Linked DNA regions of Homo sapiens. The protein of the gene in region 6 purifies or fractionates together with the protein of the main gene of each other region. This does not show direct contact. Each region holds a gene or a part of one and is shown on either strand. Other genes may lie near its edges. The genes, in order: SERPINA12, ZDHHC20, FAM241A, GPAT4, POTEF, TSPAN8 and NSUN5.

Region 1 (4,247 bases), on a different chromosome or scaffold from region 6:
GTTTCCATCCTGGGAGTGCATTACAATCATCCAGGAGCTTTAGAAATACCTATTTTCAGAACATTCCTCTAGAGATTTTGAGTTAGTTGATGCAGGATAAATCCTGGGTGAGGGTGCCTTTAAGAACTTCTCTCCAGGGGATTTAATGAGTACTCAAGGTTGAGAATCCCACTCCAAAGCAAGTGATTCCCACCTGATGATTCCCAGGTCTTTTAAAGCATTCAGCCACCAGGTATCAAGATGGCTGTAAAGCCACAGTATTAAGGTATTGGAACAGAGACAGACAAGCTGACCAATGGAACAGACTAGAGAATCCAACAGAGCCACACAGGAAGTCACCTGATATGTGACAAGGGCATCGCTACAGTTCAAAGGAAAGGATGATCCTTTCAATGAATGATGAAAACAACAACAACAACAACAAAACACCAGTGGATGTCCATACAGGAAAAATATAAATAGTGACTATTTTACTCAACATACAAAAATTAATTTGAGAAGTCACAGACCTAAATGTGAAAGGTATTAGATTGGACTATATGAAACTATTGGTCTTTAATATTTTTTAACCTCAAAACCCACAAGAATCAAAATGATAAAGCTTCTAGAAGAAAATATATTAATAGTAGACAATCTTTGTGACCATGAGATAGGCAGAAAGTATTAACCATTTTTACAAAATGATAAATGGAACTTCATTAACATTAAGAGCCTTGTTCCTCTAAAATTACCTAGGACAGTACAAAGGCAAGTCACAAGCTGGGAGTGGTACGTGTAATGTCTGTGTCTGATAAAAGGCTCATGCCTGTTTTTAAGCACTTCTACAAATCGACTGAAAAAAGACAACAACTTAAAAACTAAGCAAAGACATGAACAAATACTTCACAAAAGAAGATATCCAAATGGCCAATAAGCAGCTGAAAAGGTGCTCGACATCATTAATCATCAGAAACATGCAAAACAAAACTACAAGAAGAACTCACTACACACCCACTAGAATAGCTCAGATTAAAAGGACCAGCCACACGAGGACGTGGAGCAAGTGGAACTCTCTTATATTGCGGGTGGGTGTGCAAACCGACACCAACGTGTTGATTGGAAAATTGCTTGGCAGGATCTATAAAAGGTAAACATATGCTTACCCTTTGACCCATTCATTGTACCTCAGGGTATATGCCCAACAGGAAATGAGTGCTTGTGGGTTTACCAAGACATGTACTGCAATGTCCATAGCAGCTTTATGTGATAGACCTAAAGTGGAAACAACCCAGATGTCCATTTATAGTAGAGAAGGGAGAGAGAGAAAGAGATTCCTGGCCACCATCCCAGATCATACTTTGCATTTCCCTGGGTGTCCCCACTCTTCTTTGGTTTCCACAGGATCCCCAGTTGATGCTTGTGACAGACAGCTATGGGAGCCAGTGACCAAGAGTGTGAAACACTGCAAAGCCCAAATCCCACTAGAACAAATTATACTGTACCTCCAAGCAATAAGGCAAAGACTGAGTAAATGCAATGTATTTTCAGTCATTGAATTCAACTCCAATTGGGGAGCTTAATCAATAAATGATTTAAAATTAATAATAATTGATTTTGAAAGAAAATATTTTTAAGCAATCTCCGGTAAGATCCTAGGTTACCCTAAAAAGCTTCTAGTACAAAATGTTGAAAATCTTTCCACACAAAAATCTAAACAAGTAAGAAATAAAAGGAGAGAAATAGAAAATTTAGAAAATTTTTTTTTAATGGGAAGCATTCTGTAAATAGTAAAAAATTCAAGATGGCATTTCAGAACATTCGAGAAAAGGTGAACAATTCCATAAATGCTATTAGGAAACAAACAAATCATTTCAAAAATAAAATTACAAGTGTTGGAATAAAACCTTTTCATAATGTTAGAGTGAAAAAGAACTTCCTAAGTGTGATACACAAGCCAGAAACCATGTAGGAAAAGATGGCATATATGGATATACCATCTTTTTGCAACGTGTTAAAACTCTACAGAATATGTAAAATTTGGAATCACAAATTGGAACATGTGTACAAGATAGAGAGCTAATGTTCTTAACAATTAAGAGTTCTTATATATATCAATAAGTAACCACATGTGTTTCTCAATCAGCAAAAAGTAAAAAATTTGGGTAAATATGCATTGAAACATTGTGGGTGGGGGCCAGCTTTGATTTTCCTCATCTTATTTTCTTCTTTGTCTTTGTCTCTGCAGAACAGGGTACTTCCATGCACATATTAGTAGATACGGTTATTCATAGACATTATGTATTTTTCATACCAACTTTGCAAGTTTGGGTGCTGCTAGACCCATTTTTACACATGAGAAATCTGAGTTTCCTATAGCTGCACAGTTAGCAGATTCAGGACTCAAAAATCAGGTCTTCTGGTTCTGAATCCCTTTTTCCATGGATAGCTTTCTGGTAGACCATAAATGAAAGCATGGCCACAGCATCTTGGCAGCCAGCACAGACCCATGGAACTCTTGGCCAGACTGGTGATCCAGCCCTAGGGCTAGGCATGAGAAGGACGCAGAATGTCTGTCTATTTGAGTGATCACCTTGGCCCTTGGTTGTCTTCTCTAAGACAGAGAAACAGACAACACACACACACACACACACACACACACACACACACACACACACACTGCCCCTTGGACTAACCTCACCTCCCCAGTTTCTCCTTTCCCCTCAGGTCAGTCTTCCTTGGCCTTCCCCAGTTGTTGCTGATCCCAGCCTCCTAGTCCTTTTTCGGTCCTGGTCCTGCAGCCTTCAGGTTCCAGGTATGTTCCTCTAGGCTCCCAGCCCCACAAGCCTTATCTACAAACTGGGTGGACTTCTGCCCAACGACCTACTAAGCCTGCCTCTGCCACCTCCACCCCTTTCCCAGGATCAGCCTGGCCAACTGGCCCTGCCAAGTGTCTCACTCAGAGAGCAATGCGTCTGGGAGTTCCCTTCCTCACCCCTTGGGAAAGATCAGGCCTACTTTTTCTCTCCCATCCCAAATAGCAAGGGGCACTGTGCTAGGTACACCCAAGGTGCTCTGTAGATTCACTGATGAGGGCCTGGCTTGCTAGGACCTGAGTGTTTGGCACCCAGTAAACCTCATAAAAGTGAGTGCACCAGAAACCAGAGTGACACACGCCATCCCCTCCCAGCTCCACAGCCCTGATCCCTGTGATCATCTTTGAGCAGAATCGTCCACCCCAGATTCCTTCCCTGGGACAGGACAGGAATGGGTGTGGGCACCCTGGCACTGCTATAGAATACCAGCCGCCTGGCACAGATGTTCACATGGCCCTCTCTCACCTCCCAGGTGCAGCCTGGGAGCAGGCAGCCCATCCATCCAACCCCACCCCACTCCCGAGCTCTGGGACGTCTCAGGGCCTGGGCCTGTGGTCTGGGTACCAGACATAGGTGACTCATAATGCACCTGGTGGCTGGAGAAGCCATCCCTTCCTCTGGTTCTCAGTGTACTCACCTGTACAATGGGCAATAGGAGACTGCATTGGATCTGTGGTTGCCTGAGAGAGCCAAACTATTGGAAGTCATGCTGTCAATCAATTTCACTTAAAATAATATAGACCCAAGTCCGTGCTAAATGTCATTCAAGCCAGATCTAGATGCTGGTAGAAGAGCAGAACAACAGAGGATATAAAAAAAGAGCATTTGCTCAACATTACTAACCATCAGGGAAATGTAAATGAAAACCACAATGAGATACCACCTTACTCTTACAAGATGGCCATAATTAAAAAGTAAAAAATAAAAATAAAAAAAATAGATGTTGGCATGAATGTGGTGAAAGGGAACACTTTTACACTGCTGGTGGGAATGTAAATTACTACAACCCCTATGGAAAACAGTATGGAGATTCCTTAAGGAACTAAAAGGAGAGCTACCATTTCATCCAGCAATCCCACTACTGGGTATCTACCCAGAGGAAAAGAAATCATTATATGAAAAAGACACATGCACACACATGTTGCGTAATTTCAAAGATATGGAACCAACCTAAGTGCCCATCAAACAATAAATCCATAAAGAAAATGTGGTATATACACACCATGGAATACCACTCAGCCATAAAAAGGAATGAAATAATGTCCTTTACAGCAATTTGGATGGAGGTGGAGGCCATTATTCTAACTAAAGTAACTCGGGAATGGAAAACCAAATATTGCATGTTCTTGCCCATAAGTGGGAGCTAAGCTGTGAGCACAGGTATAAGAATGATAT
Region 2 (4,206 bases), on a different chromosome or scaffold from region 6:
CCTACTGTCAACTAGGCCACTAACTAATATGACTTTTAAGGCACAAAATCAGGGAGAACAGAATCTTTTATACATGCTTTATTACTCAAGCAGCAGTGTGCAGTGATTAAATACTTACTCGCTTTTACTACATTTCTCTGACACAGCAAAGGGTGACGTCTTCTTCATGGAGACTTTAGTGAGCAGTAGCTAATTTAAAGCTCAGTGTAGGCCGGTCGTGGTGGCTCACACCTGTAATCTCAGCACTTCTTTGGGAGGTGGAGGCGGAGAGGGGTTGGGATTCCTTGAGCCTTGGAGTTCAGGGCCAGCATGGCAACAGGGCGAAACCTAGTTTTTACAGAAAATACAAACATCAGCTGGGCATGGTGGCGGGCCTGTAGTCCCTGCTACTCTGCAGGCTGAAGCAGGAGGAGTGCTTTAGCAGGGAGGTCGAGGCTTAAATGAGCCCAGGTCGTGCCACTGCACTCCAGCTTGGGCGACAGAGCGAGAAGACCCTGTTTCAAAAAACAAACACAAAAATTCATTCTAACCAAAACTGAATGCTAGTAGCAGGAACTGGTATGAAGATTGCGGTCTGGAATCCCTTCTAATGCGTCTGACCTTGCATTGTGAAGTCTTCACAGTGATGCTTCTGGGTTCTATATGATTATCGTCATTGCTTAGCAACCTCTAGTTGTAAATAAATTCTTTAAATTTCCTTAGTCGTTTGCGGGGCAAGGAGAGGGTCATTTACATGCCCTTTCCTTCTCGCTACTCAATCTTAAATTTGGGTTACGAATCAAACTGATGGACCCTACATGGCTTCTACCCGAAATTACAGGTATCTACCGTTCCATCTTCAAGAAAGGGAGGGGTTCCGCCAAGATGGACGAACATAAAAATCACAGGAGGAGCCTTCTAACAATGTGCATTCTTCGCACACTGAGTGGGGAATGGCCTTGTCATGTTTGAAACAGTGCCCCAACTACTCAATGTCCCAGGAACCCCAGTGGAGCGAGTTCTGTACACAGAGAGGGCCAAGATCCACAAATCAGCTAAGGAATCATTTCCATAGTCTCCCTCCCCTATTGAGTCTCGATCCACAAAAGCTATCCCCTGTCCCTCTCATCCATCAAGGGCGTGTTTTTCGCCTCTCCTTCCCCGGCCTCCCGCGTCCGCCCAGCCTGTCCGCATCCAGCCCCGCCACGCCCCATGGGCGGTCCCGAGCTGCGGCCCCGCCCCCTCACCGCCTCCCCGGCCGCGGAAACCCCGCCCCAACGACGCGGAGACCGGGGGCGGCCCGCGGCCCGCGGCGGGCGGGCTGGCGGGGACGGACGCGGGGGGAGGGGGGCGACGGGATGTGGGGTGGGGGCGGGGCCTGGCTGGGCGCCGGGACGGGAGGAGTCCCGGCGGCGCCTCGGACTTTTGCTCCCACAAGTCCTGCCTCGGAGGCGGGGGAGCTGGACCAGCAGCCGCCTGGAGCGTCCGAGTCACCGTCGCCGGGGCTCCCGCGCTCCCCAGAACGGTGGGACGCGGGGCTCGGCAGCCGCCAGCGGAACATGGCGCCCTGGACGCTGTGGCGCTGCTGCCAGCGCGTCGTGGGCTGGGTGCCGGTGCTCTTCATCACCTTCGTGGTCGTCTGGTCCTACTACGCGTACGTGGTGGAGCTCTGCGTGTGTGAGTACCGTCCCCGGGGACTGCGGCGGGGCGCGGGCCGCGGCTAGGGCGCGAGATAGGCCTCTGCGCCCCACACCCGCCGCCTTTCTGGAGCCAGCGCCGGACGCCGGGCGTCCGGCCCCGAACGCGCTCGGAAGCGCCGAGGTTGCTGCACCCGCCGCTTTGTTCAATCCTGCGGCGCGGCCTTGGGGCGACCTGGGGCTCCTGAAGCCTTGCGGCGGCTTCCCGGGTGCAGGTCTGGCCCAGGGAGGCCCCAAGAGCTTCCTGGTTCCCGCCGACACCGGGGGTCTGCATCCTTCTGGGAAGGAACGTGCAGAACGGGAGTAGTCGAGCTTCTTAGAAGGTTTAGGTTGTGTTTGTGGCTTTTTTGGCTTTTGTTCATTTTTTTTAAAAAACCAAATCTGTTCCTTCTGGATTGTTTTTGTTCAAACTGCGCGAGAAGAAACGCCTGTTACCTGTAGAGCCGGCTGTGGCGGGTTGGGGGAAGGGAGGTGTGTCTTTTGGTGGCCTCGGGCTGGAGGCGGGTCAGACCTGGAGGACGAGTAAGCTCCCACTTTTGATTTTTGGTGGTACTCGACTCATTGTAAAATTCGTTTATTTCTACTCTGAATCCAGCCGGCTTTTGCAGAAGGTTAAGACAGAAAGAATGGGTGGGAGGAGACATAACCTGATTATTTTTTTCTTGGCTGATTATTAAGGAGGCTTATATTTCTTATACTCATATTTTGGCGTGTTAATTTTCGTTACTTCCATTTTCCTGATAAGTTCTTAGCACAAAATTCTCATCTGATTCCCTGGAAAAAAGGAGTAGCATTGCAGTATACTTCAAGGATTTAACCTACTGGCTTGAATTGGTTGCCTTTAAGATTGAAGGAAATTGGTTGTCATTAATCAAAAACACTGTTTAGGGGTGACTGCTACATTTGTGATATTGGGCAATTTCTCCAACATTGTTTTGTCTTAAGTAAATTGTTCTTAGGCTTTGAGTATGTGGGTATTTTACACTTAAACTGGCCTCAACTAGGGTGTTCTGTATACATCTGCTGCCTATATCAATTTTTTATGAAAACCTAGGACCAAATGGTAAGTGGTGTTTGTAAACGTTATTGTTATTCCAGAATGTTCTACTCTTAGTCCTTAGACTGAATCTACCATTTTATGAAGGACTGTTAAGTGTTCTTTGAATAACGAACCACATCAGCTAGAAACTAATGTTATGAATGAGAAGAATCTGTACCACCCACTCTTGAAAGTGGCAGAATCAAGACTTCAATTATGTTTGGATTTGTACAGCTTTCAACCAAGTATTTGGTTAAAACCCTAGTTCTATACATGGAAGAGAATGCTTTGGCTCAGAAAATTTATAAGTTTTGAAATTAAAACATCCAGTTTTAAAATTACTTTGTACCTATAGAACGTTTAATTTTGGGACGACTATCCCTGCAGGTAGGCCCAGAATAAATTAGTTGTGGAATACATTTCCAAATAATATTAATCTTTTCAATATCATTGTTTAGTCTCATGCTTTTGGATACCAGAATGTTTACTAAAAATGATGTTTGAGTCAATTAAAATTACTAGATTTTAATATTTCTGGGAGCTACTTCCAGAAAGTGGTAGTGATCATAGGATTCTCATCAACTTATGATGATACCTCCTTTATCTTCTTATTTACTCTGAAGTGGGCATTTATTCTAAAAGTTATGTCATTCCTATTCTGTCAGAAGATTATTCCTACCGTATTTTAATTCCCGTAGTGGTTTTGAAGTAAAGCTGAAGGAACACTAAAAATGTGCATTTATGTTGAGATTCCACAGCTTAACCTGTAGATGGTTTTTGTCAAAAATATTAAGAAATGAGATCAAACAGTGCTGTGAAAAGTCTTAAATTGCTTCTGATTTCTTTCACCACTTCAAATAAAGAAGGAGAAATGAACATGAATTGAGAAGTGCCATGTGCTAGTGGGCATAGAGGGGACATTTCATTCACCCTCTCCTTTAATTCTTTCAGTATGTCACAGCATAGGTATCTCTACAGGTGGAGGACGTGAGACTGAGCGAATAGGTCCTTTTGGTTAGGTCACACAATTGATTATTGGAATGTGACCCACATCTTTCCGTTCTTTCATATAACTTCAGTAAGCTATGAGGGTCAATGGAACTGTAATTGTTTGGTCCATAATGGTGTGGGGGGATAAAGGGGTTGGCATATTTTTGGAGATCACTTAGTTAGGCTTGAGGCCCATTCTGTAGAGATTATACCCTACAATTTCATTAAGTTAAAACATTCTATAACTATGGCCTGATGCTTGGCAGAATCTTAAAATATTTGGTGGTGAAAGGTCTTATGTAGAGGCTGTATTAACTTCTGAGTTATCTCATTTTAACTAGAGAGAATTTGGGAGGTCTGCAGTGTCACTGGAGTATAAAATAGTTGAGCATAAAAGTGCATTTACTCATATTAAAACTATCCTTTAAACTACTTGTATGTATTTGTTTTCATAAGTACTGACCCTCCCACTGAAATATGTATAGATATATTACTTTATAG
Region 3 (3,500 bases), on a different chromosome or scaffold from region 6:
CCCACTAAACTACATAGACCCAATAAAAGAAAAAAGATTTTTTTGAGGGGATGGATAAAAACAATGAGAATATCAACTAGAACTTAGTCTTTGAAATGATTATAAACAGAAAAATACCAAAATTTGCATTCATTTTTCATTTTAACTACCGGGCTTCAATATTTTTAAAATTATAAGTCATAATTGCAGACACACAAATGAAACCACCAGGTAGTCAAAAAGATACACTCAATTTCAGTAATATCTAACAGACGTATTGGAACAGCTGCCTATTGTAGAGAAAGAAATGGTTATGCAATGGAAAAATAATTAAATAAGAGAAGGGCTTTTCATGAACTAATGATATATAACTGTGGGCCACGAACTCAAGAATATGCCTAACTCAAGCCTCTTTTTTTGTGGCGGGGGAGGGTGGTGGGCGCAGACGGAGTTTTGCTCTGTCGCCCAGGCTGGAGTGCAGTTTGCGATCTTGGCTCACTGCAACCTCTGCCTCCTGGGTTCAAGCGATTCTTCTACCTCAGCCTCCTGAGTAGCTGGGATTACAGGTATTCCCCACCATACCCGGCTGATTTTTGTATCTTTTTGGAGAGGCGGGGTTTCGCCATGTTGGCCAGGCTGGTCTCGAACTCCTGGCCTCAGGTGACCCGCCCACCTCAGCCTCCCAAAGTGCTGGGATTACAGGCATGACCCACCACACCCTGCTCAAGCCTCTTTCTGATTTCAAACTGCAGGTTAAGACATTTCTACATTTTATACTTTTTCAAGAATCTACTTTTTTAAAAAAAAATATGAAATCTCTGGTGACATTACTTAGTACCTTGCATATGCAGGACAATATGCTAGATGCTACTACAAGATGGGTAAACTTATCCATTAAAAGTAGCCAGGCTGGGCACGGTGGCTCATGCCTGTAATCCCAGCACTTCGGAAGGCCAAGGCAGGGAAATTGCTTGAGGCCAGAAGTTCATAACCAGCCTGGGCAACACGGCAAAACTCCATCTCTACTAAAAATACAAAAATTAGCCAGGCATGGTAGTATGCACCTGTAGTCCCAGGAACTCGGTAGCCTGAGGCACAAGAATTGCTTGAACCTGGGAAGTGGAGGTTGCAGTGAGCTGAGATCCTACCATTGCACTCCTGCTTGGGCAACAAAGGACTCTGTCTCAAAAATAAAAAAATAAGAAATAAATTTTAAAAAATAAAGTATCAAACTTAGGGGAAAAAAGTAGTCAAAATCAAATATCTCTCCTGAAAAATGACTTTCCTTCTCAATTCTCAATTTGTGGCAGTGAAAATTTCGCTTCTGCTGTTATTACCTCTAAAACTCATGGAATAAGAAATCCTCAATTCAGTCAGACTGATGGAATTTGCAATCATGCAACATCAAACTTAAATTCCCTACCTCTGTAGGCCATCTGCAGACATTCAAGTAAAATTTAATTAAGAGGATACAAAACAAAAATTAAATTATTTTGGATTAATTGGAAGAGGAAATAAAAGAAATTCTCAAACACAGATATTTAAAAAGTTACATGAAAATAAATACTGTAAAAACCACAATGGGAATTTAACTTTCTTAACATTATGTTTAGATATTAAGTATTAATGATAATTTTATCCTTTATTTTCCATAAAGTTAAAAACATTTGTACCATGCTTTCCTTTTGATTAGAACTCTGATAAGCTGCAGTTGTTGCCCTAAGAAAACAGCAAGAAATAAAGCCAATCACTTCCTCTTCCTATGCCAAGATAAGACTCAGCTGCCAATGAAGTTAAATGGCTGGGGGCGGTGCCGGGGGAAACACTGGGTATGGGGAAAAAGATCAGAAGATAGAAAGTATCTTCTGCATCAGGTTGGTTAGAAACTCGGTTTATCTGCTCAAAAGAAGCTACATTTCAAATGTCTTATTAATTCTCTCAAACACACATAAACACAATGAAATAAAACATAACTAGTAGGAACAAGGTTTTCGGAGATAGGTGGCTGTTACTGGAAGATAAGATTATGACTCCAGAAAAGACAGAAAATGAAGACAGTGTTGCTAAGTCTTAAAGAACACATGAATAGAGACACAGAATTTCTACATATTTCTGTTACAGCAAGACTGATGTCATGGTACTTTGAGTTTTTCCTTTTAATCTTGCCTTATCACTTCTTTTGAATAGGAAACTGAGAATAGTTTGTACAGAGGAGGTGGGTATTTTTCCTCTCAAGGATTAGTGAGCAACAAGGGGGAAAAGAAACCAACTAGAGATCTACATAAAAAACAACATAATTTAGGTTGACAGGTTTAATTTTTTCTTTAGAGATTGTCTATTCTAAACATTAGATACATTGTTTCACAATCTTAACACTTTGTTCAATAAATATTCTATAAATTTGAGAATTACATGTACTAAAAACACAGTTCTATGATGTGTTAGTTGAGGGAAATAAGGGGAGGAAAACCAGAGAAAAAGAAGAAAAATAGAAAAGGTGAGGGAGAAATAAGGAGCAAATATTTATTGAGTGCCTCCATGTGTTAGGCATTTTACATACAAAATGAGACTGAATCCTCATAAAAACTTTAAGAGGTGGGTAGCATCATACCCATTACAAATGAGGAAATTGAATCTCTGACGGATTAAGTAATCAGGATCACGGGGGCTAATAAAGAGTAAAACCGGGATTCAAAATTAGATCTGTCATACTTCAACCCCCTTTTCATTGTTTCATAATGCTCAGCTTCTGCACTGAAGTGGAAGAGGTAGGGGAAGATGTATGCAGAAGAAGAGAAAGTGGTTGAGATGCGTGGGGAGGGAAAAAACACATGAGAGAACGAGACTCAACAGAGACAGAAAGGAGATGGGTGGTAGGAAAGAAAGGCAGAAAAGGAATGTGTGAGAAAGCAAAATACAGCAAGTTGCATACGAGGAGCTGCTAGAAGAGACACAGAGAAAAGTTTGAAATTCTGTTTAAAATACAGGTTTCAAGCAAATAAACAATTTTAACCTATCTATTGGAATATCTATTATCAGAGTAATTACTTTTGACAACTCAAAGGACTGTAACCCTTACATATTTTGAATATTGTTTCTCAACTTTGGCACTATTGAAATTTTGTGCCAGATAATACTTCGCTGTAGGGGACTATGGCATTATACGATGTTTACCAGCATTCCTGGCCTTTTCCTATTAGATGTCAGTACCACCTCCTTAGTTTCAGCAATAAAAAAATGTCCAGACATTGTCAAATGCCCCCTATGGACAAAAGGCCCCCAGTTGAGAACCACTGATTTAGAAGTTCCAGTCTGGATGATTTAAAAAAATGAACAAAAGATGCCTATCAAATGCAAAATTATTCCCTGAGTTACTCTAGTGACTGGATGTCCTTAGGAACAAGATGAGATTAAGTTAGGGCAGAATTCAACTAAGCTCATAGCACTTATTACAATATTGCTTGCAAACTGCTTTTAAAATACGTGAAAGGAAGTGAGTATAAACTAATATTTAGTTTTGA
Region 4 (3,500 bases), on a different chromosome or scaffold from region 6:
CCAGAACAGCAGCTCTTGAACTTAGGCTGCATCAGCATTGCCTGCAGGGATTGTTTAAATGCAGATTGCTGGGCCCCACACCCAGGGTTTCTGAACTTCCTATTCTTTTTCTTTTGAGGCAGGGTCTCAGTCTGTCACCCAGGCTGGAGTGCAGTGGCACAATCATGACTCATGCAACCTTGACCTCCCACATTTAGGTGATTCTTGTGTCTCAGCCTCCCAAGTAGCTGGGATTACAGGTGCACACCACCACACCTGGCTAATTTTTTAATTTTTGTAGAGACGGAGTTTCCCCGCGTTGCTCAGACTGATCTAGAACTCCTGGACTCAAGTGATCCGCCTGCCTTGGCCTCTCAAAGTGCTGGGATTATAGGCCTGAGCCACCCCGCTGGGCCTTCTGATTTTCCATTCTAACATGTTCTGGGTGGCATTGATGGTGCCAGTTGGGACCACACTGTGGCGGCCACAGTTCTGAAGCAGTGGCTCTTAGCTGCTGTCAGAACACGAACCCTGAGGAGTTTCCGCTCCTCTCCAAAGTAAAATGCTTATAAATTTTAGATACATTTCCATTTAGTCCACAGAGTAGAGCCCATGTATGGCTAAGAACATCTGGTCTACAGATTACTGGTTTTTGTGAACTCTTTATTGGTAATCAAACTTGGATAACCTTAGCGATTTCAAGGCTCTTCTTATATTTCCACCGGAATCCAGCCATGACCTGATGTGAGGAGTGTGTCGCTGTGTTGAGCTTCTGCCTTTTTTCTCTGTCCACACACACTGCCCAGTGTGGAATAGAGAATCAGCCCGAAACAAAGGGTTCTCACACTCTGGTGACATCAGAATTTCTGTCCATATCAGGCTTTATAAAATACAACGACATGACCAGATGCAGTGGTTCACGCCTGTAATCCCAGCACTTTGGGAGGCTGAGGCCGGTGGATCACTTGAGGCCAGGAGTTCGAGGCAAGCCTGGCCAATATGGTGAAACCCCGTCTCTACTAAAAATACAAAAAAATTAGCCGGGCGTAGTGGCAGGTGCCTACAGCCCCAGCTACTCGGGAGGCTGGGGCAGGAGAATGGCGTGAACCTGGGAGGTGGAGCTTGCAGTGAGCCGAGATAGCGCCACAGCACTCCAGCCTGGGCGACAGTGTGAGACTCTTGTCTCAAAATGTATATTATTATATATAAAATTAAAATTAAAAAAATACTTTCTGATCATACACATTGCTTAGTTTTAAAAACTTATTATTTTCCCTTGTTTCTGTTGGTATTATAATAACACATTAAGTCTTCTGTAGTTAAATCTAATTTTCTTAGCTTCTATAATTAAGCCTAAGTTATCTTCATTTTTGTAGTTAGGGCCACAGTCTTGTCAAAATTGTCCAGTATTTATACTGTGGATCATAAAACTTAGGCTGGAAAGGCCTATAAGATCATAGAGTTCAACCCTAGCCCATCCCACATGCAGGACCCTGCCCTGGGCTCCTTCTCAGGCTTTCCCAGGGAAAGGGCATTTTTGATGTTGTTGGCAGCATGGCCGTGTGGCATAACTCTTGAAATTCTGGCTCCTTTATTTTTCCACTCTGGTCCTGGGTGTTTGCACAAGGTCAGCCTACTGCCTTGTGTACAGGATCCCTTCAGACATTCGCTGGCAGCACCAGGCACTTTGTCCAGGCATTCTCAAGCACCCAGGTCCTCCTGTTGCTCCTTGCGCAACTTCCTCTAGAGCTTACCTACCCTGCTCACCTGCCCCTCCAGCTACTTGTTTGGTGAGAATGTGGGTCACAGCTGCAGCTACATTTTCTGCAAAATGCCAATGAAATAATGAAAGGATCTGATACCTGCTTCATGGTAGATGCAGGCCTGTGTGGTTGAGACCTCCCAAGGCTGTCAGCGTGAGCACAGAGCCGCCTCCTGAACAGACGACTGACTTTGTTGGAAGTGTAAATGTAGAAGCTTTCTAATAGTTTCCTCCCTGGTCTGGGCACCAGAAATCATATTTAAAAGTTGGTGTTTGTGTAAGAAAATATCTTTATTTGGGGGAGGTACACTAGATGAATGACAGGATGCTGAGAGGGGACAGGTGGAGCAAGTGGGAAACGTTGGCGGTGGTTGAATCAGGGAATGGGTACATGGGAGTGCATGATCCTTTTCTCCCTGGTTTTGGAGATGTTTGAAAACTTTATATACCTATGAGTAAGACCTGAAACTAATCAAGGAGGGAAGACATTTGCTTGAGGCAGGCTGTCAGGGGAGCCTTCCTTACTGATCTGTAGCAGAGGCCGGGTTCCTCGGGGGAGATCAGTGTTGCTCACAGTCAGAACCGGCCACATGGAGAGGGGCTTCCACAGTACTCATGCAAGGTCAGGGAGCAGCACCCCAGTACCAGCACGGCCCAGTGGAGTCACTCACAGCAGTCACTGTGGACTCGCAAACGTTGTGAGAACTACTCATGTCTTACCTCCAGCTTTCCATTGTTTTCAGTATGACCCTCAATTTGGCGATGCCTTCTGGAACAGCAGCAAATACGGGATGGTGACGTACCTGCTGCGAATGATGACCAGCTGGGCCATTGTCTGCAGCGTGTGGTACCTGCCTCCCATGACTAGAGAGGTGAGTGCCTGCCCCAGGCAGGTCTGCGCCTGCTCTGTGTAACGTCAAGCCGGGGCTGAGTGGTCTCATTTGTTCTTTCTTACAGGCAGATGAAGATGCTGTCCAGTTTGCGAATAGGGTGAAATCTGCCATTGCCAGGCAGGGAGGACTTGTGGACCTGCTGTGGTAAGTTTAGAGCCAGGCCTTTTCAGCTGAGTTTCTGCAGCAGATGCTGTGTCATTGACTTCACTTACATGTCATTCCCCGTGGTGTGGAGAATTAAACTTGTCAGCTCTAGAGAGAGCAGTTTGACTCTCCCCGAATTCCAACCCAGAAGTGCCCTGTGCTTCCTTGACCTTGGGGAACCTGGATCAGGGATGCCTGGACTGAGGCAGTTGATTCTGTGTACCTTTCTGGGGTTTGAACCAGTCTTCCAGGACACCTGGACAGTGCCCATCTCTGGGTGGGCATGACCTGCTACTGATCTGAAAACTTCAAGAAGGAAGGAGGACTTTCCCAGGTCCCAGTGTATCTGGCAAAATTGAACCATTCTTAGAAAGGTAAAGGTTGTGTTTGGTGTATTCAGCTTGTTACCTAATAGAGCAGGATTGACATACTTTTTCTGTAGTCAGTAAATATTTTAGGATTTGCAGGCCATATGGTGTCTGTTGCAGCTACTGATGATCTCTGCCATTGTAGTGTGAAAACAGACAGTCTATAAACCAATGAGCATGGCTGTGTTCCAATAAAACTTTATTTACAAAAACAGGTATCAGCTGGATGTGGCCCGTGGGCTGCATTTGACCAGCCCTTATACTAGAGTATGAGGTAGTTTTATCCCAAACAGTAGGAGACTGACAGGGGTCAATGCTGGTTCAGAGAAAGTTTTCCACTCTGTGGGGCATTTA
Region 5 (3,500 bases), on a different chromosome or scaffold from region 6:
GGGCTCATTGGAGAAATTTGAGCAGGGGAGCCACAAGATTAAATTTGAGTATTAAGGCATTCTGGTTATGGTGTAAAATGGGTTAGCAAGCTTTTTCTTTAAAGGACCAGGTGGGAAATATTTTGGACTATGTGGTCTCTGTCATATCTACTTAACCGTGCTGTTGTCTGCTGTTGTAGTGTGAAAGCCACCATGATTATATGTAAGCAAACAGGCATGACTGAGCTCCTATAAAACTTTATTTACAAAACCATAATGCAGATTGGATTTGGCCTGTGGCCTATAGTTTCCTGGGATTGATGGGAGATAATCATGCAAAGAAACCAGGAGACAAAGGAAGCTTTTGCAGTAGTCAGCTATAGTTTCCATGTCACACATCCTTGGAGTAGCATCAATGTATTACAAGGTTTTCACCCGTCCATGGTAAAATAAATAACGTTAGAAATCTCAGTTACTCATTTTACTATGTTGGCCTTCGTTATGCCTTTTTCACTTGTTTTGCTTAATTTTTTTTCCTGTAAGAAATAACATTAATAGTTGGCAGTTTTCTTTTAAATAGAAGTCATTTTGTAAATGTTTGTGTTCCCAGTGGCAGTGGGAATATAAAACAGAGGCAGAAGAGAGGTATAGTCAATATGATTTAGTGATAATTGAATGAGAAAGGCTTGGGGGACAGAGAGAAATCTCAGATGATGTACAGGTTTCCAGATTGCACACTAGTATTTAACCTGGACATGAGGAAGGAGTAGGAAATTTTCTGGTGAATACAGGAGAGCAAAGAGCAGCAGGTCAGCAGGAATGACTAATGTTTTTCGATGCATGTTTAATGGAATATTCGTGTAGGGTATTTTGAGTAGGTAATTGGATAATCAGCATTTATAACTCGCATCCTACTAGTTTGACTCTAAGTAATAAGACTTGTCAAAGATCCAAGAATCTGAAAGTCAGTAATAAATGTCCATGTGCATCATCGTCCGTGACAGAAAGTCAGCATCCACAGAACACAGAATTGGGACAGATGAACTTAATAGATAAAGATGAATATCGGAGTTGTTCCTCTTAGGGAATGATACTCTCCATGACCTGTGTGAGTCACAGCTGCCAGAAAAGAAAGAGCAAGGAGCGTATGAAGGCAGCACAGCAAATTCGGTCCTAGAGTGCCCTGCTTGGCTTCATGTCATAGTTCTGACTTCTAAATAATCATTTTCTGCAAAATGTGCTTTTTGTTTTTCCCTCTTGCCGCCTGCAGCCAATCAGAATCTTTTTAGCAGGACATAATGAAAAGAAGTAAGAGAAAGAGTGTTTTTTTGTAATGGGATAGTATTTAACGTAAACTTGAGAGTGAGTACCAGGATTATACTTAGAATTTATGGACTGGATGGGAAGACTGGATAGAAATCTAAAGATTGCTGACTCAAACACAATGTGGTTTCTTTGATTTATTTTCACAGCTCTGAATTCACGACTGTTAATTGTATTCATATGCATTATAACTTTACAAAGCATCTTCCGAAACCAAATATTTACTGATTTATTATAATTTGTATGACTTTATTATAGAACTGACTTTCCAAGTGTTCATGAGAATTGTTTAGAATTTGCTACATTGTATCATCTCAGCTGTGTCCACATGAGCTATCTGTCACCTTGTCTTAATGAATAATTGTTCACTAGGAATATTGGTTTTGGCATTGAAATGATCTATATCTAAATGCAGATAGGACCCGGGACCACTTTTGAACATTAATGTTCAAGCATCTTAAAATTACACATAATGCTTTCATAATCTGACTTCTGCCCCACTCTCCATCTTTAGCCCTTTTCCCTGTGTGCCCTGTCTCTGGCATTACTGAACTGCTGGCAGTGCCCTACTCACTCATCCTTCTATTGTAGGCAAATACTTTCACTCTTTCAGGAGTCGCTCCCGCTCTTGCTGCTGCGTGGCATGCCGTCACCCTTTCCTGCCCTCTACACCTTTTAATCTGGCTAGTCTCAATATTTAAGTCTCTGCTTGGGCATGTGTTCTAGAAAAGCCATCTCTGACATGCTTTATTTTAATTCTTTTTAAACCCTAATGCCTAGCATGTATTTAGCAGGACTCAATAAAATATTTCTGAGTAAAACAAAGACTGTTTTTACAAAGATGATGTGCAAGACTCTCCCCTGCAGTCTTGGAGCAGAGGGGACAGACGTGGAGGAATAATGTACAGTTTAGGTGGTCAAGATGCAGTAGAAAAATCAGTAAAGTACTAAGGCAGCCTCAAGGAAGGAGGTACCTGTTTATTTGGGGAAAGACATGCAGAATCAAGGAAGACTTCATATAGCATTGTTTCAAAAGATGAAAATAAGGCCAGGTGTGGTGGCTCACACCTGTAATCCCAGCACTTTCAGAGGGAATCACGAGGTCAGGAGATCGAGACCATCCTGTCCAATGGTGAAACCCCATCTCTACTAAAAATACAAAAATCAGCTGGGTGTGGTGGTGCTTGCCTGTAATCACAGTTACTCAGGAGACTGAAGCAGGAGAATCACTTGAACCAGGGTCGCGGAGGTTGCAGTGAGCTGATCACACCACTGCATTCCAGCCTGGTGACAGAGGAAGACTCTAGCTCATAAAAAAAAAAAAAGAAAAAAGAAAAAAAGAAAATAAATTTGTCAGAATAGTGGAGAGAAACATTTTAGATATTAGGAAGATGTTGTACACTAATAAAGGTGTCAGCAGTGATTTTGGAAATCATTTATAAGGTACTATTAGGAAGTGGAGAACAGTACACTGTGTCACCTTATATGTTTCTACTGTATTTTAAAGCTGTGTTTCTGGTGGTTTTGTTCATGGATGTTGGGTGGATGAATTTGTGAGGGAATTTTTGACATGTTTGTTTGTCTTCAATCTGGTGACATCTGCTATCTCCCCAAGTGGGTTTTTGAAGTTTTTGAGAATTATTTCTTAAATGACAATTTCACAAAAGATGAAACACTCAATTTATGAAATAAAATGAAATGTCTCAAATCTGTTTTTAAAAGGCAATAGTTTTTAACTGTTTTAAGTGGTTGATTTTAACTGAATGTATGGATTTTTCAACAGAACAAGACTTAAAGCTGACATCAGAGGAAGAGTCACAAAGGCTTAAAGGCAGTGAAAATGGCCAGCCAGAGGCATGGAAACTTTTAAATTTAAACTTTTGTTTAATGTTGTGTTTTTTTTGCCTTAATAATATTAGATAGTCCAAATGAAATTACCTTTCAGACTAGGCTTTGAGAATCAGTAGATTGTTTTTTTAAGAATCTTTTGGCCAGGCAAGGTGGCTCACGCCTGTAATCCCAGCACTTTGAGAGGCTGAGGCAGGTGGATCACGAGGTCTGGAGATCGAGACCATCCTGGCTAACATGGTGAAACCCCGTCTCTAGTAAAAATACAAAAACTTAGCTGGGCGTGGTGGTGGGTGCCTGTAGTCCCAGCTACTCGGGAGGCTGAGGCAGGAGAATGGCATGAACCCAGG
Region 6 (3,500 bases):
GTAAGTGAAAATTCTTTCAATATCTTGGCATTGCAATGTATCAGAGCTGGGAAAACCACTCAGTCTTGGTTCTGTTTTTCTCAGCCATTTTTTTTTCCTCCCATTTCTGCACGAAGTGTTTTCCCCTTAATTGAGCAGATGGAAGCAACATGAGGGATAATTATCTTTCTTTCTCCCATCTAATAATATCATGTGCCACATGCCCTGATTCTTGGGGTTATCATTTCCTTGTTTTTCTTCCTCAAATGTGGCTGCAAACCCTCTTTTTTAGTGTTTTCCATGGATCAGTTTATTCTGGGACTGTAACTTTCCTGACATTCTAAGAGCTTCATTCTTCATTTGTGTTCCCTCCCATATTTTAAAGATGTTCATAAAATTCAATCTTATGGGAGGCTCCTTGAGCATCTATTTGGGTCTTTGCAATATCTCTCATTTTTTTCCTCCTGTCTTTCAAAAGTGATCAGAGATCATGGAGTGGAAATTTCACTTTTAAAACTTCATGTCTCTTTTGAGCAACAATTCTTTGACTCTCTTGTGAATTCTTTGGAAACTTTTTTGACAATATCTAAATTACAGAGATCTGACTCTCTTTTGTCATTAAAAACTAGTAGGTGAGGCTGGGCACCGTGGCTTATGCCTGGAATCCCAGCACTTTGGGAGGCTGAGGTGGACAGATCACGAGGTCAGGAGATTGAGACAATCCTGGCCAACATGGTAAAACGCGGTCTCTGCTAAAAATACAAAAATTAGCTGGGCGTGGTGGTGCAGCATGCCTGTAATCCCAGCTACTCGGGAGGCTGAGGTAGGAGAATCCCTTGAACCAGGGAGTTGGAGGTTGCAGTGAGCCGAGATCGCGTCACTGCACTCCAGCCTGGTGACAGAGCAAGACTCCATCTCAAAAAAATAAAAATAAAAAACCTAGTAGGTGAGTTTTTCATCTTCCCAACTTCTTCAGATTTTTGAGTCTGCAACTCCATTTTTCCATCATTAATGTAAAGATCAAAATGCAAAAATCCTTAATTTTTACTTCTACACAGAGAAAGGTGAAAGGTGACTTACATGGTATTTTAGCATAATAACCTTTAATAATGATTTCAGAAGATTATAATTTAATGTATTGCCAATGTTTTTAATCTTCTTACTGACTGCTTCTCATTCTACCTTTTATCAAACAGTTTAAATGCTGCGGTTTGGTCAATGGAGCTGCTGATTGGGGAAATAATTTTCAACACTATCCTGAATTATGTGCCTGTCTAGATAAGCAGAGACCATGCCAAAGCTATAATGGAAAACAAGTTTACAAAGAGGTGAGAACTAAATCACATTTGGTACAATAAGCAATTCTGTTACTTTCTTTTCACAATTAAAGTCCCTACAAAAAATTAAAATGCATGGAGTACCATGGGAATCATGATATAAAAATCTCAGAAATTTCCCAAATTAAAAAAATCCTTATTTAAAGATAAAAGCAGATAGACTTCATTTCTTCTATGAGTCTGGCATCATTTAAGCCCAATATTAATAGGTCAAAGAAACATTCTACTGCAATGGGAGGCAAAGTACAAACTAACATAAAAGTTTATTTTATCCTCTCTTTGGTCATCTTAATCATTATTCTCTTTTATTTTTTCCTACTTTAACATAAGTTCTAGAAAACAATATTTTCACTACAATTTTCAATGTTTTTTGTTTTCTAATCAAATTTCCTTTTCTCAAGAAATGAGGTTTCTTCTTTCCCAAAATTTAAAGAAAGGACTCCAAGTCCTTCCCAAATACATTTAAGGGTTTAGGTTCTCTATGTTACTGACAGCTACCAATTTACCTAGTTATTGCTGCAATTGAGAAGTTACCTTGAACATTTAATGTCAATTGAAAAAGATAGGTTAATCTTTTATGTGTTGTAGATGTCATATTTATGTGACTTGTGAATGTCAATACATGGATGTCCTAGTTCTTCTTATTGATCAGTTCATCAAATACTTACTGACCACCTCCTATGCGCCAAGCTTTCTACCAGTCACCGGGAATTCATTCCTGAACAGAGCACAATGTCTGCGCTCATGGAGCTGATGCTCAAGTAAGGAAGAGAGAAAGATAGTTAGGCAACTTCAATCCAATGGTCTACTAGTATCTCTTGGATAGAGATGGGTGCAAGGTGTTATGGGACCCCATCTCACTTAGTCTGTGGGGTTCAGGATATGGCTTCATGAAGAACATGACATCTGTCCCTTCATAAGTTGTTCGTTCTGCTTAGAAGAAATGTGTACAAAAATTACAATTGATATTAGTATTTCATTTATTTACTGTTATTCTTCAGTGCCTACTACATGTCAGACAGACCCTTGCTAGGATCAGACATGCTTCTGGATCCTCTAGGAGATTACAATCTAGTTGAGAGGCAGATACATTAAAAACCACTATAAATCACAATGAATTAATATTAATATCTATAATACCCGAAGATTCTTTTCAATCTAGAAATGTTTTGGTTTAGTAACTGCTACTGAAAATAATTTATAAAAGGAAATAGAAAGTATCTCAGGGGAAACTACCCTTTCCTTGACTACTGATCTTTTTCACTGATCTTATCAAAATTAAAGAGGCTCTGCCCTGAAGGGGAATTGCTGTCATTAATACTTAAAGTATGTCGCTAAGATTTAAAGTAACTCAATAAATAATCTACCAGACTACAGGTTATATTGCGTTTTTCATTGTCAAAGTAATATTACTAAAAAAAGTTTGATTCTTACTTTTTATATTCTCCCTGCTCCCCTCCTCCCTACCTAATGTTAGTGACACAGTATTTACAAGGAAAAGGGGAAATAAATATAGAGTAAATAAAAATAGTTTCCACTTAGGATAATGAGGAAATAAGTAAATTCAATTGCAGATTGCTATTTGTCTCCTGTTCAAATTCAACTGAAAGATGTTTTTCCTCAAGACAGATTCTGAAAAGCCCCTGGAATTATTCTAAAAAAACTATTAGATAGTTTCTGTAAGTTCACACATAATTCAGCTGAATATAGGCTGATAGCTACACCAGTTTCCCAAAAGGAAGGTTGTAAATTCATAAAATACTTCCATCTGCCATGTGTCATTTGCAAGAAGTCTGGTAAAATAAAAAATATGGAATGGCCATAATTCACATTTCTTTTTTTTCCTCTTCCTTTTGCCAAGATACCCTCATTATCTTAGGCAAAGAGGAAGAGAAAAACCCCTGAAACATAATGAATGTGACTCAGTAGATATAATCATTAATCTCATTGTTAACCTAAATGACATAATAATTTCCTTGAATGTTTACCACGTTGGGTTAAATGTGAATGAAGAAACTCAATACATTCAGGAATGAAGGGGAAAGATGACTTAGCCTTCTGGAGAAATTTTATTTTATTTAACAAATAGCAATACTTTGTTAGCCCTTTGCACATATATGACCATCAAAGGGATAATATATTTCAGGGCAGTACAAAAATAACACAATTATACTGTGTAGTCTT
Region 7 (4,062 bases), on a different chromosome or scaffold from region 6:
TAGGATTACAGGTGTGAGCCACCACACCTGGCCAGACTGATCTTTTAAAGAAGTATATGTTAGCACAGCACTCCATGACTTAAAAACCTTAAGAGGACTACCATTTCTTTCAAGATAAAAGAATAAAATCCTCGCTGGGCACAGTGGTTCATGCCTGTAATCACTGCTTTGGGAAGCCGAGGTGGGAAGATCACTTTAGGCCAGGAGTTCGAGACCATCCATGGGCAACATGGTGAGACCACATCTCTACAAAAGATAAAATTAGCTAGGAGTGGTGGTGCATGCCTGTAGTCCCAGCTACTTGGAGAGTGAAGTGGGAGGATCGCTTGAGCCCTGGAGTTTGAGGCTGCAGTGAGCTATGACGGTGCCACTGCACTCCAGCCTGGGTGACGGAGTGGGACCTCATCAAAAACAAAAACAAAACCGTTATTGTGGCTTTGAGGCCTGGATCATACCTACATCACTTAATTTGGCCAAACCGGCCCATTTCAGGTACCCAAATACCCCACGTGCTTTCTTGCTTGGCTCTGGGACTAATGTGGTTACTGGTGCAGGGTGAATGGCAGGTATTGTAAACCACATTGTGGACCTAGAGTTGCTAGGACCTTTTTTGCCATTACACAGAAGCCTCCCTGAGAACACAGCCATTGGATGACACATGGCAGAGGAAGATAAGACAATAAACGGAGACACAAAATTATGGCCAGCGCGGGGGCTCATGCCTGTAATCCCAGAACTTTGGGAGGCCAGGGTGGGCAGATCACCTAAGGTCAGGAGTTCAAGGCCAACCTGGCAAACATAGTGAAACCCCATCTCTACTAAAAATACAAAAATTAGCCAGGTGTGGTGGCGTGGGCCTGTAGTCCCAGCTACTCGGGAGGCTGAGGCAGGAGAATTGCTTGAACCCGGGAGGCGGAGGTTGCAGTGTGCCGCGATTGCGACACTGCGCGACAGAGTGAGACTCTGTGTCAAAAAAAAATTATATATATATATATATATATATAATGACTAATACACATGTGAAGATATTTAACCTCAGTAACTTCAGTTAAACAGCAGTAAAATCCCATTATTTGCCCATCAGATTGGCAAAAACTTAAGAACTAGAGAAGAAGTGGCGAAACGGGCTGCAGCGTCGCACTCCCTACCCCGGCAGGTGCGCGATCACACACACGCCTTGCAGGGCGACTTCGACCGGCACTTCCGGTCCCGGAAGGTCGTGCTTTTTGACCCCGGAAGTCCGGGCGGGCGCCGAGCCGGGTGCGTTTTGCCACAGAGCCGTAAAGGCGCGCGGGAACATGGGGCTGTATGCTGCAGCTGCAGGCGTGTTGGCCGGCGTGGAGAGCCGCCAGGGCTCTATCAAGGGGTTGGTGTACTCCAGCAACTTCCAGGTAGCGGACCTGGGCGCGAGTAGTAGGGGTGGGGAGTGAGGAACCCGGGGTGGGGTCGGACGGGCCCGGGTGGGGTCGGGAGGTGGGGCCCGGCGAGGAGGGCCGGGGGAGCCCCCACCCAGCTTGTCTTCCTCGGCCACACAGAACGTGAAGCAGCTGTACGCGCTGGTGTGCGAAACGCAGCGCTACTCCGCCGTGCTGGATGCTGTGATCGCCAGCGCCGGCCTCCTCCGTGCGGAGAAGAAGCTGCGGCCGCACCTGGCCAAGGTGAGGGGAGGGGAGGGACGGGGAAGTGAACCCCGACGGTCAGCGCTTTGTCATCTGGTCTCAGCTCTGCTGCCGTGCACGGCGGGACTGGAGCAAGTCGCTCATCTGAAATGAGTATGAGCCGACCTTCCCTGGGTTACGAATTAAGATGGGATGAAAATGCTTTAACTTTGAGTGTTTTGAAGGATTAAATAACCGAAGTACAAAGTGGTAGTGGCGGAGACTGTAAGGAAGTCGGGCGTGGCGGCGCGCACCTGTGGTCCCAGCTACTCGGGAGGCTGAGGGAGGAGGATCACTTGAGCCCAGGAGGTCGAAGCTGCAGTGAGCTATGATCTGGCCACTGCACTTCAGCCTGGGCGACAGAGCTAGACCCCATTCTAAAAAGAAAACCCAAACCCACGAAAGGGTAATGTTGGCAAGAAGTTGGGTGCAGAGGTGTCTACTGGTGAACATCGGTGGAGAAAGGGTCTAAGGCTGGGAAGCGAGACGCCAGGTTCCGATCCTGTTCTGTAGTTAATTTCTGGTGTGATCTTGGATAAGGTATCCCACCTGTATCTTGTCAGGTGATCTGTTTAGCCATTCCATTGCCGGGGCTCCATTAGAGTTAGTTCTAAGGCATTCATGCTTCATGCTTAGGGCATTTTTGTTTTTGTCTTTGTTCCCTCATTCCCAGGTGCTAGTGTATGAGTTGTTGTTGGGAAAGGGCTTTCGAGGGGGTGGGGGCCGATGGAAGGCTCTGTTGGGCCGGCACCAGGCGAGGCTCAAGGCTGAGTTGGCTCGGCTCAAGGTTCATCGGGGTGTGAGCCGGAATGAGGACCTGTTGGAAGTGGGATCCAGGCCTGGTCCAGGTAAGCTGGAAGGAGTTGGGGGGTGGGGGAGGCGGGGAACTTTGCTCCTGCCTACTCACTGCTCATTGCGTCCTACGTAGCCTCCCAGCTGCCTCGATTTGTGCGTGTGAACACTCTCAAGACCTGCTCCGATGATGTAGTTGATTATTTCAAGAGACAAGGTTTCTCCTATCAGGGTCGGGCTTCCAGGTGAGAGCTTAGAGCCCTGGCTGTCCTCATCTAGGGAGGTGTCTGGGGTATTGGGAAGAGAAGTGGCTGGATAGTTGTGACTTTGCTCTCTGGGCTTTCTTCCTACCTTTCCAGCAGTTTATCCATCTCCAAGGTTTGTCTTCCTGCCATCCCTTAAACATCGAACTCCTAGGAGCCTCATCCTACATTCTTCTTGATCTCTCCGTTTTTTCTCTAGCTTTAACTCCTGCCTCCCACCTGGTGATTCTCACCACCCAGTGTAGACTTCCCTCTTGCATTCTTACCTCCTCAGGTTCATATGAACGCACCACAGATGCTAACAGTCGCTGCATTTGTCATCTTTCCTCTCAGACTTTACACCTAGTACATCCCCAGTTAAATCTAACAGATGTCACCATCTTCCACCCATTTGGTCAAGCCAGAAACTGAGTCATCCTAGGTGCTTCCTTCTCCTCCCTCCAATCATTTACTCCCCTACCTTGAGCATCTTTCTCAGCTCCACTCCTTTCTCTCTTTTTTTTTTAGACTGAGTCTCACTCTGTCATCCAAGCTGGAGTGCAGTGGCATGATCTTGGCTCACTGCCTCCCGGGTTCAAGCGATGCTCCTGCCTCAGCCTCCTGAGTAGCTGGAATTAGAGGCTCCCACCACCAATGTCCAGCTAATTTTTGTATTTGCAGTAGAGATGAGGTTTCACCATGTTGGCCATGCTGGTCTGAAACTCCTGAACTCAGGTGATCTGCCCGCCTTGGTCTCCCAAAGTGCTCGGATTACAGGCGTGAGCCACCACATCTGGCCTCCACTCCTTTCTCTTCAGCCCCTCGGACACTGCCTAGGTTAAGCACTCATTTCTTATTGGGATGACCACAAGAACTTCCCAGACTGGTTTCTCTGCTTCCAGACTGTCTCACTGCATTTTCCTTGAGGTTGACTGTAGGAAGCTCTAAAGCCAGATCTGATGCTGTTACTCCTCTGCTAAGCTTTTTTTTTTTTTTTTTTTTTTTTTTTTTGAGACAAGGGTTTTGCTCTTGTTGCCCAGGCTGGAGTGCAATGGCGCAATCTCGGCTCACTGCAACCTCTGCCTCCTGGGTTCAAGCAATTCTCCTGCCTCAGCCTCCTGAGTAGCTGGGATTACAGGGATGCAGCACCACGCCCGGCTAATTTTGTATTTTTAGTAGAGACGGGGTTTCTCCATGTTGGTCAGGCTGGTCTCGAGGCTCCTGACTTCAGGTGATCTGCCCGCCTCGGCCTCCCAAAGTGCTGGGATTACAGGTGTGAGTCACCGTGCCCGGCCATGCTAAGCCCTTTCTTGGCTCCACTGTGCTGTCCCTCCTGCTTTCTCTCAGGTCCATCTGCCACGGTGCTGCGT

The links.
Region 1: the proteins of TSPAN8 (region 6) and SERPINA12 purify together in Homo sapiens (affinity purification with mass spectrometry; one large-scale study listed by BioGRID and IntAct). This does not show direct contact.
Region 2: the proteins of TSPAN8 (region 6) and ZDHHC20 purify together in Homo sapiens (affinity purification with mass spectrometry; one large-scale study listed by BioGRID and IntAct). This does not show direct contact.
Region 3: the proteins of TSPAN8 (region 6) and FAM241A purify together in Homo sapiens (affinity purification with mass spectrometry; one large-scale study listed by BioGRID and IntAct). This does not show direct contact.
Region 4: the proteins of TSPAN8 (region 6) and GPAT4 purify together in Homo sapiens (affinity purification with mass spectrometry; one large-scale study listed by BioGRID and IntAct). This does not show direct contact.
Region 5: the proteins of TSPAN8 (region 6) and POTEF purify together in Homo sapiens (affinity purification with mass spectrometry; one large-scale study listed by BioGRID and IntAct). This does not show direct contact.
Region 7: the proteins of TSPAN8 (region 6) and NSUN5 purify together in Homo sapiens (affinity purification with mass spectrometry; one large-scale study listed by BioGRID and IntAct). This does not show direct contact.

The regions. Positions count from the first base shown.
Region 1 is NC_000014.9:94,506,670-94,510,916, forward strand, and holds the start of SERPINA12 (serpin A12 precursor), read right to left. Parts: upstream 2,801-4,247; 5' UTR 2,673-2,800; intron 1-2,672. UniProt on the Homo sapiens protein: Adipokine that modulates insulin action by specifically inhibiting its target protease KLK7 in white adipose tissues.
Region 2 is NC_000013.11:21,456,504-21,460,709, reverse strand, and holds the start of ZDHHC20 (palmitoyltransferase ZDHHC20), read left to right. Parts: upstream 1-1,406; 5' UTR 1,407-1,538; coding exon 1,539-1,656; intron 1,657-4,206. UniProt on the Homo sapiens protein: Palmitoyltransferase that could catalyze the addition of palmitate onto various protein substrates.
Region 3 is NC_000004.12:112,151,954-112,155,453, reverse strand, and holds part of FAM241A (uncharacterized protein FAM241A), read right to left. Parts: intron 1-3,500.
Region 4 is NC_000008.11:41,616,200-41,619,699, forward strand, and holds part of GPAT4 (glycerol-3-phosphate acyltransferase 4 isoform 1 precursor), read left to right. Parts: intron 1-2,484; coding exon 2,485-2,613; intron 2,614-2,698; coding exon 2,699-2,778; intron 2,779-3,500. UniProt on the Homo sapiens protein: Converts glycerol-3-phosphate to 1-acyl-sn-glycerol-3-phosphate (lysophosphatidic acid or LPA) by incorporating an acyl moiety at the sn-1 position of the glycerol backbone. Active against both saturated and unsaturated long-chain fatty acyl-CoAs.
Region 5 is NC_000002.12:130,087,723-130,091,222, reverse strand, and holds part of POTEF (POTE ankyrin domain family member F), read left to right. Parts: intron 1-3,085; coding exon 3,086-3,156; intron 3,157-3,500.
Region 6 is NC_000012.12:71,130,500-71,133,999, reverse strand, and holds part of TSPAN8 (tetraspanin-8), read left to right. Parts: intron 1-1,175; coding exon 1,176-1,307; intron 1,308-3,500. UniProt on the Homo sapiens protein: Structural component of specialized membrane microdomains known as tetraspanin-enriched microdomains (TERMs), which act as platforms for receptor clustering and signaling.
Region 7 is NC_000007.14:73,306,027-73,310,088, reverse strand, and holds the start of NSUN5 (28S rRNA (cytosine-C(5))-methyltransferase), read left to right. Parts: upstream 1-1,262; 5' UTR 1,263-1,298; coding exon 1,299-1,391; intron 1,392-1,535; coding exon 1,536-1,658; intron 1,659-2,331; coding exon 2,332-2,506; intron 2,507-2,586; coding exon 2,587-2,695; intron 2,696-4,062. UniProt on the Homo sapiens protein: S-adenosyl-L-methionine-dependent methyltransferase that specifically methylates the C(5) position of cytosine 3782 (m5C3782) in 28S rRNA. m5C3782 promotes protein translation without affecting ribosome biogenesis and fidelity.